Regions from separate parts of the Homo sapiens genome. Here region 2 is linked to region 1. The links come from fine-mapping of genetic effects on gene expression. Tissue or cell type: whole blood. Region 1 holds a variant in brackets; the other region holds the start of a gene. All regions are shown on one strand. Distances are from middle to middle.

Evidence for each region. PIP is the estimated chance that this variant, and not a neighbour inherited with it, causes the effect.
Region 2: it holds the start of SARS1, and the variant in region 1 is fine-mapped to the expression of SARS1 in whole blood (INTERVAL, PIP 0.95).

Annotation. Positions count from the first base shown.
Region 1 is chr1:109,169,437-109,172,192 of GRCh38, reverse strand. ELAPOR1 (endosome-lysosome associated apoptosis and autophagy regulator 1) reads right to left here. Exons shown (of 22, transcript NM_020775.5): 4 at 180-327. Among named protein-coding and RNA genes, the nearest start is that of SARS1, 43 kb to the left of the region's middle. The variant C/T (reference allele first, on the strand shown) is at 1,544.
Region 2 is chr1:109,212,238-109,214,856 of GRCh38, reverse strand. SARS1 (seryl-tRNA synthetase 1) reads right to left here and starts at 939. Exons shown (of 11, transcript NM_006513.4): 1 at 729-939. The coding sequence starts at 864. RefSeq lists an enhancer at 516-875 and a silencer at 926-1,145.

The DNA.
Region 1 (2,756 bases):
CACTTTTGCCTTTTCTTCTTGCCTCCTGGGCCTCAGCTCATTTTGCCCACAGCTCTCTCCAGAGAGAAAACAACAGTGATTCCCCCAAGCAGGGCTACACTCATGATGGATTCCTCAAACGGATCTGAACCCCAGAGAGGCTTTTTAGCTCCCACCCTCCACCTTGGCCAGGGGCTTACGAAAAACTCAAAGATGATGCTGGAGTCTGGATAGTAGTATTCGAAGTTAACGGTGCCAGATTGCTTCAGGTTGACGGCGTACATCAGTGTGGCTGTGCATTCGTCCGTGTTGGAGGCGATGTAGTCGCCCCGGGGAACCCACTTGGACCTGTGAAGGAACAGGAACCAGGTTCACAGGCAGGAGCACAGCCCACCAGGCTTTGTGCCATGTGCAGGTCTCATGTTCTGCTGGGTCTTTGGGAATTTTCAGGCTTGTGATTCACAAACTGAAACTTGGACCTGAAAATGCTCAGTGAAGAAAGACAAAAGAAGCTCTCAGGTAGGTCAAGGACCTGGAGTACAGCTAAGAAGAGGAAGGCAGACAGGTGAGGAAAACAAGCAGGCATGCCTCCACATTGTGCAGAGCTACCTGGGATACGGGTGGCAGGTGAAGTTGGGGAGGGCTAACATCTTTTTTTTTTTGAGGCAGAGTCTCGCTCTGTCTCCCAGGCTGGAGTGCAGTGGCGTGGCCTCGGCTCACCACAACCTCTGCCTCCCGGGTTCAAGCAATTCTCCTGTCTCAGCCTCCCGAGTAGCTAGGATTACAGGCATGCACCACCACACCCAGCTAATTTCTGTATTTTTTTTTAGTAGAGACAGGTTTTCACCATGTTGGCCAGCCTGGTCTCGAACTCCTGACCTCAAGTGATCCACCCACCTCGGCCTCAAAAAGGGCTGGGATTACAGGCATGAGCCACTGCGCCTAGTCAGGGAGGGGTAACATTTATTGGTTGCTTACTACCTTCCAGGAATTGAACTACGTGCTTTATATTCATGATTTATTTTCATCAATAAGAGGAAATGTTTTTTCTGTTTAAGAGATGATGAAACTGGGGCTTGGAGAGTGCCAAGCCCAGTATTACGAAGCAGCGAGTGGCAGGGCTGAAATCAGGTCTGCCAAACTCTAAAGCTGTCAAATAACTCAGTAGACACAGATATTCTTCAGAACTCAGACATCCACCCAGTCTAGTCTACCTGTTTTTCCAGAAATGTCTACTATAAGATGCTGCATGTAAATGGTTTTTATGGAAACAAGGAGGGCCGGAGAACCCTGGAGACAGCCAACCTGGTCATGTCTGTTTTATCTCCTAAATACGTGTTCACTCTATCCACCCTGTCCACGGGCTCTCCCTACACTCACCACCACACCATCTATGAACCAGCCCCCAAACTTGTCTCCCTGAAGCCAGTCCCACATCCTCCAAGCCCTCTGCATGCTGCAGCCCAGCGGACAGATCCTCCAGAATAGACGTCTGACCATGGCACTCCCTTGCTTCAAATTAAAACCCCTGGGACTGACTCCCTGTGGCCCTTAGGATAGGGTA[C/T]AAATTCCTGATGCACTCTATATACTTCAACTCTATGACATTTCTTTCAATTCCTCTGCCAAGCTTTCTCTTACCTCTGGGCCTCCTGACATCCTCTTCCCTCTTCCTGGAATGAACTTCCTCCTCTCTCTCTCAGTTTAACTCCTACTGTGTCTTAAATGTCACTTAATCTAAAAAGTCTTCCTTGATTCTATCTGCTTCTGCTATGGGTGCCCTTAGCTCTCTTTGCTCTCCTTCTCATAGCCATAATCCCATGATATTTTATATATTTTTAGTATATTATGAAATATGTAAGACCTATACAATGGTGTAATGAACACTCCCCGACCCATCACCCTGCTTAAGAAGTTCAACACAGCAGAAGCCTCTGCGTACCCTCCACTAACCTCATCCCTTTTCCTGGAACACACTGCCTTCCCCACTGCCAAGTGACTAATTTCCTGAATCTGGTGTTTAACATGCGCATGCGGTTCTCTACATGTATGTATCTCTAAACAACATACTGTATGGTAGTGCTTCGCATGTTTTCAAGCTTCACATAAATGGTATTATATTTATGGGCTCTGAAACTCACTTTGGGAAGGAAGGGACTTCAATATACTAACTGTGAGATTCATCCATATTCACACATCCAGCTTTTTTGGCTTCGTCTTTACTACTGCATAACATTCCTTTGTACGGCTCTGCCATATATATTTGTGCATTACTCGTTGATGGACATTTGGATTGTTTGCAGTTTCATGTGCACATTCTGCTGTGTTCCTGTCTCCTTAGGCACATGTCTGAGTAGAAAGCCTGGGAGGAGAACTGTATGTGAGCCTCCCATTTACCAGCTACTGCTACACTGTTCCTGTTGCTCCACATCCTCTCCAAATTTGAAACTGTCAGACCTCAAAATTGTTGCCAATATTATGTGAGGGAAGAGACCAAATTTACCTTACTCACTAAAGTATTCCCAGCACCAGCCTGGACCTGGCACATAGTGGGGAGTCACAGGGTTAAAGAGTTGAATGTGGAAACAGGTAATCGAAAACACTCACGCTATTGCACTGTTTTGCCTGAGACCAGCCCAGGTTTCCAGTTGCTTAATAATGGCCAGTTGGGTGGGCGTGGTGGCTCATGCCTGTAATCGCAGCACTTTGGGAGGCTGAGGCGGGTGGATCACCTGAGGTGAGGAGTTCGAGACCATCGAGACCAGCCTGACCAACATGGT
Region 2 (2,619 bases), 43 kb before region 1:
GCAGTTCCAGGTTCTAGCCCAACTCTGCCAATGTCTTTAAAGGAAAACGTCCACAAATCACAATTAAACAGCTTCAGTCATTACAATCTTTTGCTCGCCTCCTCACTCCCCTCGCGTTTGATCTACCACGGAAAAGACTTTTCTAATTCTTAAAGGTATGCCCATAGGTCGGGGGATGGCCTTCCGAAAAGCTTCAGGGTCATTTATTTTGGCCAAGAGCGGCCTCCAACGCCCCGAAATGCTTCCGATACCGAAGGAATGAATCTACTGTGTTGCAGAAGTGACGCAGTCTCAGGAGAAGCCTTTGATCCTATCAAAACAAAGGAAAACCACTCTGGCCTTGCTGAAGATGAGAAAAAGACTGGGGGGGACCAAAGATTCGTGTTAGGAAAGCCGCGTAGACCCCACAACCTCCCGCCCCGGCATGTTCTGGCAACCCCTGGGGCAGGAAGGCTTGACAGCTCCCGATGCGCGTGCGTACGCACACTGGCAGCGAACGGCACTGAGCACGCGTGGAAGGGACCTCGCTCCGCCCGGGTGGAGGAGAAAGTGGGATGACCCCGGCGACCAGGCTGTGTTTTCGGGGATGGGGAGAACCTCGGAGCCACCGCACCCTGGGAGGGGGTCTGACGAAGGGTGGAAGCTGTGGCCTCAGGAGCGGTGGCTGGATTTGAGAGAGAAAATTGGGTTTAGCATCAAGGAGGTAACCCGCCCGTCCCGGTACTTACATCGTCGCCACTCGCTGTCTGCCTTCACCAGCTGGTCCACTAGTCCCGGGTCCTTGAAGCGCTTCTCCTGCGTCTCTCGGATGAGGGCTGGGTCCCCTCCTTTATCCACCCGAAACAAATCCAGATCCAGCACCATCTTCTTTCCTCCCGGGCCAACGCTCAGGGAAGCAAGGATCGCGCCGCAGCACTCAGCCTGTGACCGCCGCACTGCGCCGGCGCGCTGACCCGCCCTTCCTGCGCAGGCGCAGCTGGAGCCCGCAGGCGACCCTCCCCGCGACCGGAAGCGGCTGGTTGGAGGCGGGGCCGCGGAGGGAGGGGAGGGGAGAGTGGGTGGGCGTGGGACTATACCTCTGGTTCCTGCTCCCCAGCTCTGCTACAGTCTGCAGGAACTGTGATCGCCACATAAAAGTGTGAATGCCTCAGTTTCCTACTCCTGTCTCAGGCTAGGCAGAGGCCTGTCCCCTCATCCCTAGCTTAGAGGCCGGGGCCTTCACCAGGTGCCCGTTTTCCTCTCACTAGGTTGGGTTCTTCCACTGGGCTCTTTCCCTGAACCTCGGCCGTCTTCTCCATCTTGATACAAGAGGATGGCATATTTAGTCCCAGGGCTACCTCAGCTTAAGATTCCTGCTCTCGTGCCTTAGAAATGGTATACCTTTATTAATCTGATTATTGGATAAACCAAATTGTCACTTTACCAACTCTTAAGAGCACAGCTTTGGGAAAGTGCGGTTGTCTTTTAGAGAGAGACGAGAGAAAACTTTTCCAAAGGGACATTAAGCAGATTTGAACGCCGTATAAGGTGTTGAGGTCATGTCTTGGGTCAATTTGAAAGCGTCTTGAAGAACGGTTTGTATCATACTTTGATTTTATAATGTTCAGACCTTTAAATGAAATATTCTAGTTGCCGAGTGAAGCCAAAGTTATCAAAGAATCTCCCTGATAACAAGAGATTATTTGAAGGATTTGGGAACAGGTGATCTCCTCCCCCACCCCCACCCCCAATCCTTCCACTCTGCAGAAACTTTAAAGCCTCACTTCCAATGCCTTCTCGAAGCTAGATGTGCTAAGACCTTCTTGATCTTATACCGCCGTCATGGACTCCTGAGATGAGGGTGTGACATAGCTAACTATCATATTATTTATTTATAATATGAAATATATTTGGGCTTTGTCCCTGGTTCCTGACACAGCCCCTAAAACCCTTGAATTTCCTGGGTTATACGTAATGGGTCTCTTTGATAACACCTGAGTTTATAATAAGGAGGTGATTTAGGATGGGGGCCCTAGATAACCTTAGGATGGGGCCAGTCACCAGAGAGACCAAGTGATTGGAGGATTGGAACTTTCATCCCCACCCTTCAACCTCCAGGAAAGGGGGAGGGGAGGAGCTGGACATCAAACTCTATAAACGCTCGAACAACAAGAGTTGATGAGCTTCAGGGTTGTTGAACATGTGGAGATGCCAGGAGGGTGTCTTGCCCAGAAAGGTTATGGAAGCTCTGCACCCCTGACACCTTGCCCTATCCATCTCTTCATCTGGCTGTTCATTTGTACCCTTTGTACTATCCTTTATAATAAACTGGTAAATGTTTCCTTGAGGTCTGTGAGCCTTCTCAGCAAATTAATCAGACCAAAGGAGGGGGTAGTGGGAGCCCCAGTTTATAGCTGCTAAGAAGTATAGGTGAAATCTACTACTTGCAATTGGCATCTGAAGAGGAGCAGTCTAGTGGGATCAAGCCCTTACCCCATGGAATCTGACACTACCTCCAGGTAGCTAGTGTCAGAATCAGAATCGAATTGAATTATAGAATGCTTAGCCAATGTCCACTGGAGAATCGCTTGGTGTCTGAGGAACTTACCCCCCAGGGCCCCTCACCACTGCATCTGGTCA